Linked DNA regions of Homo sapiens: region 2 is linked to region 1. The links come from fine-mapping of genetic effects on gene expression. Tissue or cell type: testis. Region 1 holds a variant in brackets; the other region holds the start of a gene. All regions are shown on one strand. Distances are between the middles of the regions.

Region 1 (5,151 bases):
GGATGTTTTGCCAACCCCAAAAAAGCCAATGGCCACCCCTCTTTGAGAATGTCTTCAGGTTTCTGAATGCCTTCTATTTAGGCTTCACAGTCTAAGTCCTTGGGTGTCAAAGGTCAAGAACCACCAACCAGAGAATTAATAAAACTGAAGCTCTAGGTAAATAAACTTCAAACTCCTAAGCTCTGTTAGAAAGTTTCACACATAGTTCATCTGTTGAGAGAGTTTTTTTTTTTCCCCATTCAAAGAGCATTTAGCCTTAGGATTGCTTTCATTCAGCAAGGATCACCTACATTCTGATTCTTGTGGTTATTAGAGCAAATCACAGGGTGTTGAGAACTTGGCTTCTTCCATCTTAATAAAACAGTTCAAGTCAGAGAGGCAGTTAATCCCTGGAAGGCTTTGTGATCCCATCCCCTGACATGTTTGATAAATATGGAAATTGTAAAATGTTCTGACTTGTTAAAATTTTTTAAGCCTGCTTAACATGCTCTTTGGCCTCAACATGCACAAAGTGCTGACTTGGCATGCCTCGGAGCCTCCATCACCTTCTCTATTGTGTATACACTGACAACCCCTGAAGCATAAATAAGTCACACTTCACAAAGAATGTTTATTCTATGCTCTAAGAGGGACGCTCCTTTTCTCAAGGAAACAAAAGCATGGGAAAGGGGAGGGAGAAAGGGTGTGTACAAAAATATGTGGCAGAAAGGAAAAAAAACCCTTCAATTCTAAATAATTACAAAATTGAAGACCATAAAAAAATCTGGGTTAGGGATAGGTATGTCTACATTTGGCTTATAAACAGATCTTTCAGAGTCTGAAATTACCATGGTAGGAAACAACTATTCCTCTTTGTTCCTTGCTTTACAAAATGTAATGAATAATATAGTTTTCTTTCAGTACCTCCTGTAATTCAAATGAGTCCACTCCCCTTTAACGCTATTCAAAGTTAAGAAAATAAAATACTATTATGACCTGTATCTGGCCACCAGTGAGCAAGAAAACAAGCTCTGATTACATGAATAGATGCAACTTCTACTCATCTCAAATAACTAATCATCTTGGAGACTGAATAAACAACTATATAAATACTGAGAAAGAAGGCTTGTAACTGTATGAGCCAGGTGCAGTGTTTAGAAACTCTGCAGACATAAAATTCAAAGGGAAACTCTGTGAAAAAATCACACAGACAGTATACTCATGAAATGCTGATGACGCACTGGAGTACTTCAGAATCTATAGCCAGCTACATTCATCAGTTGTAGACATTATTGATATTCCCAGATCCAACCATCAAATTCCCAGCACTTTGACTGTTTCCAGAAGATTGCTTTCATGGGGTCTCCTGAGGCTGCTGCTTATATTAAACTTACAATTACGAGCAACAACAGCAAAAGTGAGAAGCAGATGGCTGCAAGGTAGAATGGAAACAGAGGCCTCATGGATGCAGAGATAGGCACATCTTAGTAAAAAGAAAAGCAGCGGTAAAATAGCTGAATGGCAGAGAACTGGTGGGAGAAGGAAAAGAAGCTAAGAGTCAGGATGACATCCATACTATTAAAACTATCCAGGAAAAACTGAGAATTAGCTATAGGCCTGTAGACAGTTCTCAGGGTCTGCCAGTTTCAGGCAGACAGGAAAAGAAATGACCAGACCATTAGAAGGGGCAAGAACTTGACCTGTGGCTGCTGGGGAAGAAAACAAGGATTAAAAAAAAAAAAGAGAGTATAAATGTTGACCCTCAGGCTAGTCCTGGTACTCCAATTAAGGAAGGAAGGAAAGTGGACAAATTATGACTTTAGGAGAGAAAAAATAATCAAAAGGATTGAGAATATTATCTTCTACCTTAGCATCAATATCACATGGCTCAAAAATAGTTGCAGCTCAGAATAGCATGGCATGAAGAAAATAACACTACAGAGAGACAAGGAGACTGTATTAGTGCATTCTCACACTGCTATAAAGAACTACCTGAGACTGGGTAATTTATAAAGAAAGAGGTTTAGTTGGCTCACGGTTCCACAGGCTGTTAAGGAAGCATGGCTGAGGAAGCCTCAGGAAACTTACAACTGTGGCAGGAGGCGAAGGGGATGCCTGCACATCTTCACATGGCAGAACAGGAGAGAGAGCAAAGGCGGAAAGGGCTATACACTTTTAAATAACCAGATCTCATGAGAACTCACTCACTATCACAAGAACAGCAAAAGGGAAATTCACCCCCATGATCCAATCACTTCCCACCAGGTCCCTCCCACAACACTGGGAATTATAGTTCAACATGAGATTTAGGTGGGCACACAGAGCCAAACCAGATCACAGAACAACCAAACTAATGACCCAGTCACCCATCTTCTCCTACGGGAGGCAGAATACCCAAATGTTAAGCTCAGTGCTTCTCAAACTTTAATGTGCATGAGAATCACCTGGAGGATCTTGTTCAAATGCAGATTCTGATTCAGGAGGTCTGGAGTGAGGCCAGAGATTTTGCATTTTCAAAAAGCTCCCGGGTGATTCTCTAAGAATGCTGTGAGGACCAAGGGCTCATATGGACCTTACCCAGGTAAGTTCTGGCTTGCCTCATGACCTGGACAAGTTGTTGAACTTCTCTGATTTTTTGGTGTCTTCATTTACTGAATAGAGAGAGCAACGCTTATCACATTGATGTGAGGAACAAACAAGACAATTTAACTTAATGCCTAGCTATTATCATCACTAGCACAATAGTTCCCAAAGCAAAATAGACATACCATTGGTGGTAAAAAGAAAAGTCTTTCTAAAATTGTAATTGTTAGGCAATATTTTAATAGATACTAGAAAAAACATAACTATTACCTTAAACCCAAGATTTCATGAGTATTATCACTTAGGATAAAGCTAAGTTTAAAAGAAAAAGTTAATTTAAAAAATTACAAAGTAAATAAAAGTACAAGCGGTACAGAGATAGAACAAATATGGTGAGGATGATACTCAGTTGACTAAAGTTTGG[G/A]AAACATCAATTAATACCAGGGTTAGCAAGCTCCTTGAAGTCAAGGGCTTGACCAGATTATCCTACTATAAGGAGCAGGTGTGTGGTAGAGTTTAAACGCAGTTCAATTCTTTCTGGTCATTTAAGTCTTAGAAGCTATACTTTAATCAAATGATACTCATCTTCATCCTTATTCATATATGTTGCATAACTATGCTATCATGAATTGTGAAGCTATCCATAAGATTAAGGGAAACAAATTCTGTTGAATACAGCCATTTTCCCCCTTGATACTTACATTAACCAATCTAAACTACCTCCCAACAGTGGGTAGATAACAGAATTATTCCCCCAAGGAAAGGAAAAGCTATGATTTTATGTATCCAGTATTATGATGTTTCTCTTTTCCCACAAAAGTAGTGTAACACCATTCTTAGGTAATTTGTGGTCAAAGAGATGGATGTGGATAACTAAACACTTTACAGCTGAATTTGTCATACCTTTAACAGCAACCATTAGAGCAAACAGGAAGTCTAGGGTCATAGGTGAGTAGGAAACAGCATATTATGAGTAGTACAGTTTTCAAAAGAGAACTATAAAAGGCTTCCTGATGTATGTAGCATCTAATGTCTGATGTACTTGAAGCAACATCTCATTCTTACAATTTTGCTGTAGAAGGCTGATGGGTTTGTTTAGTTAATAAATAAAAGGTAAACACAGGCATATGCCCAAACTTCAGTCATTCACTTGTCTGTGACGTGAACCACTTCTCCAATGAATTAGATAATAGTTTTCAAATACTGTCCTGAAAGAATATTTTCTCAAGTTTTTGGTGCTATTCATAGTATAATGGTTATAGATATATAACACACTTTTTTTTTTTTTTTTTTTTTGGAATGAAGTCTCGCTCTGTCACCAGGCTGGAGTGCAGTGGCGCCATAATGGCTCACAGCAACCTTCGCCTCTCAGGTTCAAGCGATTCTCCTGCCTCAGCCTCCTGAGTAGCTGGGATTACAGGCATGCGCCACCACACCCAGCAAATTTTTTATTTTTAGTACAGATGGGGTTTCACCATGTTGGCCAGGATGGTTCTCGATCTCCTGACCTTGTGATCTGCCTGCCTCAGCCTCCCAAAGTGCTGGGATTACAGCATGAGCCACCGCACCCGGCCAGATATAACACACTTTTTAATATGTGTTATTAACATTTTTTCCATCACTTTCTTAAGTCTAGACAATCAGCAAAACAATAAATCAGCCCCTGATTGGTTGTGTTTGCTGATTTTCATGGTGTTAATACTTCTACCATGGCTAATTTGAAGCTATCAACATGATGTTAATGAACATGAAGTTGTGAAGAGATATACAATAGTATACACCATTATATAGTATTTCCAATACAGATACAAGAGACACAAATAACCTCAAGAGCATAGATAATAAAATGTAGTAAAACATAATTACTGAGTTTTGAGTATTATCTTTGTTTTTAAATAATTTATTTAATTGTAAGTTTATATAGTTTAATTTTTACTGATAACTGGCTCACAAAATTTCTGAAAATTTAATCACTAGATCTTGGGAGCTGGTGGGGGCTGCCTCCAACACATCATTGGCCACGTACCACATCCCACACATTGTTGCTACCACCCAATTTACATATCAATTTTGAGTTTTCTAAGTTAAAAAATTCTTGCATAAATGTGATAAATTTTGTGTGTTAAAGAAATGACAATAAAAATAACCATACAGATATTATGATTTGTATATTTTATATAGCCAAGTTTGTAGTTAACAATGGAAAACTTAAGAAATATTTCTGCCCTTCAGGCTTTACAAAATCAAATAATAAAAGCACCACTGCATCTTGAGGGAGAAAGGTAGGAAACAGATATTCATTTGAGTAAGAAAAAAAAAAAGGATATCAAGCTATGAATAAAAATATCTGTACTGATTTTTCACAAATAAAACTGCTCAGAAAAACTTGACATGCTAATGGAAGGAGGCTGCTTATAATTGAATCCTAAAGAATGTTTTCTATGATACAACCACCACAACATAAATGTTTTAGATGCTATCATTACATGCCGATACCAACTTTTTAATTTGTAAAAGATAAAAGAGGAAATTATAAGCAAATCCAAAGCTAATTCACTAATCCCTCTAACTGAAGTAAACCACTCAGAG
Region 2 (5,151 bases), 370 kb after region 1:
GTCTGTGCCAAAATTTTGTATTTTATTTGGAGACTTCTTATCAAAAGTAATGCTGCCAAAGGAAGTCTAAGGAATTAGTAGTGTTCCCATCACTTGTTTGGAGTGTGCTATTCTAAAAGATTTTGATTTCCTGGAATGACAATTATATTTTAACTTTGGTGGGGGAAAGAGTTATAGGACCACAGTCTTCACTTCTGATACTTGTAAATTAATCTTTTATTGCACTTGTTTTGACCATTAAGCTATATGTTTAGAAATGGTCATTTTACGGAAAAATTAGAAAAATTCTGATAATAGTGCAGAATAAATGAATTAATGTTTTACTTAATTTATATTGAACTGTCAATGACAAATAAAAATTCTTTTTGATTATTTTTTGTTTTCATTTACCAGAATAAAAACTAAGAATTAAAAGTTTGATTACAGTCAAAAGAAGAAAACACTGTTCATTATTATGGTTGTGCAATGATTTCTCATTCTAAAGAATAATTTGTTCCAGAGTCTAGCTACAGTGTAATCTCAATCCACATGCTATTAATTTAGGTTGTGTGATAATCTAATTGTTCATTCACCATTTCCTACTTAACCTTTTTTGACACTCTTCACAGACACTTTTTCCACATTTCTTGATCATCCCGGGCCATTTTTTTTTCCTTTCTTTTTAATTAGAGACAGCGTCTTGCTTTGTTGCCCAGGCTGGCCTCAAACTCTGGGCTCAAGCGATCCTCCCACCTTGGCCTCCCAAAGTGCTGGGGTACAGGTGTGAGCCGCAGCACCCGGCCCCAGGCTATTGATCCTTTTTTTGCACCTGCCCCTTATTTCTGTACTGTGACAAGTCCCAGCATTGTGCTGTGGGACTTACACAGTATACTGACTATCCTCAGACTTGGTCATGTCTATGCTCAGTGCATATTAAGAGCTTAACCAAAGTGTGTTGAATCAACAGCCAATGAACTTGATCTAATAAAAATGAGGGCCCAGGAGATACAAATTAGCAAAGCATTTTCTCCTGAGCAGTCATACATCTTTTAATATTTGTAGGCAGTTTAAAATTGAACTCCCAAGCAAACATTTGAGAACAGACACCTTGAGCAAACCGTGAAATCGGTGAAAATAATAATTTATTTTAATTTTTTGAGATAGGGTCTTCTCTGTCACCCAGGCTGGAGTGTGGTGGCACGATCTCAGCTCACTGCAACCACTGCCTCCCGGGTTCAGGCGATTCTCCTGCCTCAGCCTCCCGAGTAGCTGGGGTTACAGGCGCCCACCACCACGCTTGGCTAATTTTTGTGTTTTTAGCAGAGACGGGGGTTTCACCATGTTGGCCAGGCTGGTCTTGAACTCTTGACCTGAAGTGATCCGCCCGCCTCGGCCTCCCAAAGTGCTGGGATGACGCGTGAGCCACCATGCCCGACGTGAAGACAGGAATTTATACCCATGGAGTGCAAGAAGGGACCTTGTAATTTTTAACACGTGACACTTAGTGGCAGATGAGACCTAATGAAGCCAGGCCCACCTTCCACACCAGATTATAAATTCCCCTGGAGCAGAGATTAAATGTTTTATTCACCAACATGCCCAGATCCCTCGCAATGCCTACGCTTGACAAACACCTGTTGTCAACAAGTGCACGAGGCAGCCTAGGAGGAGAATTAGTCTCCACGAGGAGAATTACTCGGGCCTAGCAGCTAGAGTATTTCGAGGTCATCCTAACTGGGTTCCACTTTTGAATTTTTGGTTTTTGGGTTTTTTGTTTTTTTGGAGACAAGATCTCGCTCCACTTGGGAGCAAGGTCTCCCAAAGCTGGAGTGCAGTGGTGGGACCTCAGCCTCCGGGGGTAGCTGGGGCCAAAAGTGCGCGCCACCATGCCCGGTTCTTATTTTGGGTTTCTGGTAGAGCTCTCGCTATTGTGCCCAGGCTGGTCTCGAACTACTGGGTTCAAGCAATCCTCCCACCTCGGCCTCCCAAAGTACTGGGATTACAGGCGCGAGCCACTCGCCCGGCCGGGTTCCACTTCTGAAAGCTTGGGGAGCCGCTGGGCCTTCCAAGAAAAGTGCTCCACCTCCCGACGGCAGGCAGAGCCCCTGGCCCGGCTATCTTTCCAGGGCCGAAAGCTAACAGTCAAGACGCGAAACGAGGAATTCGGGTCAGGGTGGCAAAGCAAAGCGCGATGACAGTGAGGACGACGTCTAGACGCAAACATACATCAAATCGGGCCGAAGCCCGCTGTCGCCGCGCGGGCTGAACCTGGCACCCGGAGCAACGCGCGACCCCGGGACGAGACGCTCTCGTCCGAGCCAAACTACATCCCCCGGCGTGCACTGCAGCGCCCGCCCCTCGCCGGCCGGCGGGGCCCGGGAGGAAGGCGGCCGCGCTGCCAGTCCCGCAGGTCCCCTAGGCCCCTTTCGCTGCGGCCTTTCCCCAACCCGGACCCGGCACTTCTCGGGTTCCGCGACTGCCGATCGCCCCGGCGCGGCACCGCTCCCTCAGGAGTCGCCTAGGCCGCGCAGTCTCCCGACTTCTCGTCAGGCTTTCGCGCCGGCGCTCCAGCAATCACTGGCTGGAGAAGGTGGGCGTTCCGGCTCGAGAGGACCCTGCCGCGGCTCCGGAAGAGCCTCGTCCTGGGCGGCGGTGGTGCGGCGGTCGCCGTTATGGCCACTGGGCTGGGCGGCTGACCGCCGGGCTAGGAAAGGGCCCAGGGCCCCGAATCTCGGTGGCCGCTGCTCCAGCGCGGCCTGCGCCATGGCCTCCTCCGCCGCCTCCTCGGAGCATTTCGAGAAGCTGCACGAGATCTTCCGCGGCCTCCATGAAGACCTACAAGGGGTGCCCGAGCGGCTGCTGGGGACGGCGGGGACCGGTGAGGCGGGGGTGGGCCACGCCGTGGGGAGCGCAGCCCTGCGCGCTTTGGAAGGAAGATTCTCCCACCTTCCTCCCAGACCCGGGCCCGCGTCTCCTCCCTCCGCGTCCTCAGACACGCCCCCTAGGGCTGGCTTGTCCCAGCCCCAGGTCTCCCTGCTGCCACTGAGAGTAAATTGGACCTCGGGATTCAGTTCCCTGGGATCCTTCTATGGCCTTCCACATTTTCTCATCTTTTTTCACTGTGGCAAATAGAGCAGAGGGGCTTTTGCATCTGCGGTCCTGTAATGTAGAGTGGGTTTCTTTCATAGCTGTTTTTGTTTGTTTTATGCATTTAAAAGCACTAGTCTCAAGACAGGTCTAGTTTTCACCAGACTGACAGAGGATCCGTAGCACAGAAAAAGGGTTAAAAACCCAAAGGAGTCATAATTTGGGGGTGTTGGTAAATACCAGTTATTGGAGGGTAGAGAGCTGGCCTTTAAAACCTGATTGTGGCATTTAGATGTGGTCTTGTTTTGAACGTTTTTACAGCTGAGACTGTTTACTACCCCTTAATTTCATGATTCAGGTTGCTACAAGTTCTGTCTGGAGGAGCTAGAGTTTTCCGGCCCTAAATCCATAGGAAAAGCTGCTATAGTTCTTGGCCTCCGGATATATAGAATTTGATGGCAAGGACAAAACTTTGTTTTATTGCTTTTATTTAAGAGTCAGAGCTTGGGTGTTTGCTCAACGAATTACTCAAGGTCATAGGAATTGAATGACTGGTGAGAATGAAATTCATGTATTTAATATATATTTATTGTGAGGCTGCTGTGTGCTAGGTGCTGGTGAATTGTGAGGCACCGTTCTAGGTGCTGGTGAATATTGCAAATTACAGTGAAAAAGATACGAACATCCCCATTCTAGTGGGTAGGTGATAAACAATATATAACTATTAAGAGGCAGTGTTAAAGAATACAGGAAAGTAAATCAGAGTAAAAGAATAGGGGATGGGACTTCAGTTTTATTTTATTATTTATCATTTTTTTTTTTGAGACAGGGTCTCACTCTGTCACCCAGGCTGGAGTGCAGTGGCACGATCTCGGCTCACTGCAACCTCCACTTCCCAGATTGAAGCAATTCTCCTGCCTCAGCCTCTGGAGTAATAGGGATTACAGTTGCGCCACCACCCCTAGCTAATTATTTTTGTATTTTTAGTAGAGACAGGGTTTTGCCATGTTGGCCAGGCTGATCTCTAACTCCTGACCTCAAGTGATCCGCCTTCTTTGGGACTTCAGTTTTAAATAGGGCGGTTGTGAAAGTCCTCTCTGAGGAGATGGCGTTTGAACAGAGACTTAAATGAAGTGAGGGAGTAAACCAGAAATCAGGGAGAAGTGAGTGTCAGAAGGAGGGAATAGCACTGCAAATGCCTTTAAGCAGAAATGAGCTTGGTGTGTTCAGCGAAGAGCAGGAAGTTCCATGTGTTTGGGATGGAGTGAGCAAAGGAGAGCGATAAGCAGGGCCAGATCATGTAGGGCCTTGTGGACCATGGTGAAAGACTTGTGCCTTTTTCTAAATATGATGGGATGCAGTTAAAAGATACTGTGCAGAAGCATTGTGGGATCTGATTTATGTGATTGAAAAGTAGACTGCAGGCAGGGTACGGTGGCTCACACCTGTAATTCCAGCACTTGGGGAAGCCGAGGCGGGCGGATCACTTGAGGTCAGGAGTTCAAGACCAGCCTGGCCAATATGGTGAAACCCCATCTCTACTAAAAATACAAAAATTAGCCGGGCATGGTGTCAGTTGCCTGTAGTCCCAGCTACTCAGGAGGCTGAGGCAGAATTGCTTGAACCCAGGAGGCGGAGGTTGCAGTGAGCCGAGATCATGCCACTGAACTCCAGCCTGGGCAACAGATCAAGACTCTGTATCAAAAAAAAAAAAAAAAGAAAAGAAAAGAAAAAAAAGTAGACTGCAGGCCAGGCATGGTGGCTCACACCTGTAATCCCAGCACTTGGGGAAGCTGAGGCAGGAGTATTGCTGTGTTGAACGATTTTGAGACCAGCCTGGGCAACATGGTGAAACCTCATCTCTACAAAAAATAAAAAAATTAGCCAGGCATGGTGGTGCATGCCTGTAGTCCCAGCTCCTGGGGAGGCTGAGGTGGGAGGATCACTTGGGCCCTGGAGCTGGAGGTTGCAGTGAGCCAAGATCGCACCACTGCACTCTAGCCTGGACCACAGAGCAAGACTCTCCCAAAAAAAAAAAAAAATGTAGACTGCATTTTCAACCTGGCACTGAATTAATTTTTGCAA

Which allele goes with the higher level. Positions count from the first base shown, and alleles are read on the strand shown. Sizes are in standard deviations (SD) of each study's normalised expression.
As copies of G replace A in region 1, the expression in testis of the gene that starts at base 2,600 in region 2 goes up (large effect, 1.3 SD a copy in GTEx).

Evidence for each region. PIP is the estimated chance that this variant, and not a neighbour inherited with it, causes the effect.
Region 2: VTI1B starts here. The variant in region 1 is fine-mapped to the expression of VTI1B in testis (GTEx, PIP above 0.99).

Annotation. Positions count from the first base shown.
Region 1 is chr14:68,038,134-68,043,284 of GRCh38, reverse strand. The region is part of intron 7 of RAD51B (RAD51 paralog B); the gene reads right to left. Among named protein-coding and RNA genes, the nearest start is that of RAD51B, 220 kb to the right of the region's middle. The variant G/A (reference allele first, on the strand shown) is at 2,987.
Region 2 is chr14:67,672,081-67,677,231 of GRCh38, reverse strand. It overlaps VTI1B (vesicle transport through interaction with t-SNAREs 1B), which reads left to right and starts at 2,600. Exons shown (of 6, transcript NM_006370.3): 1 at 2,600-2,857. The coding sequence starts at 2,743. RDH11 (retinol dehydrogenase 11) reads left to right here. Exons shown (of 7, transcript NM_016026.4): 7 at 1-432. It also overlaps a transcript of GPHN not described here. RefSeq lists silencers at 2,276-2,715, 2,816-2,925.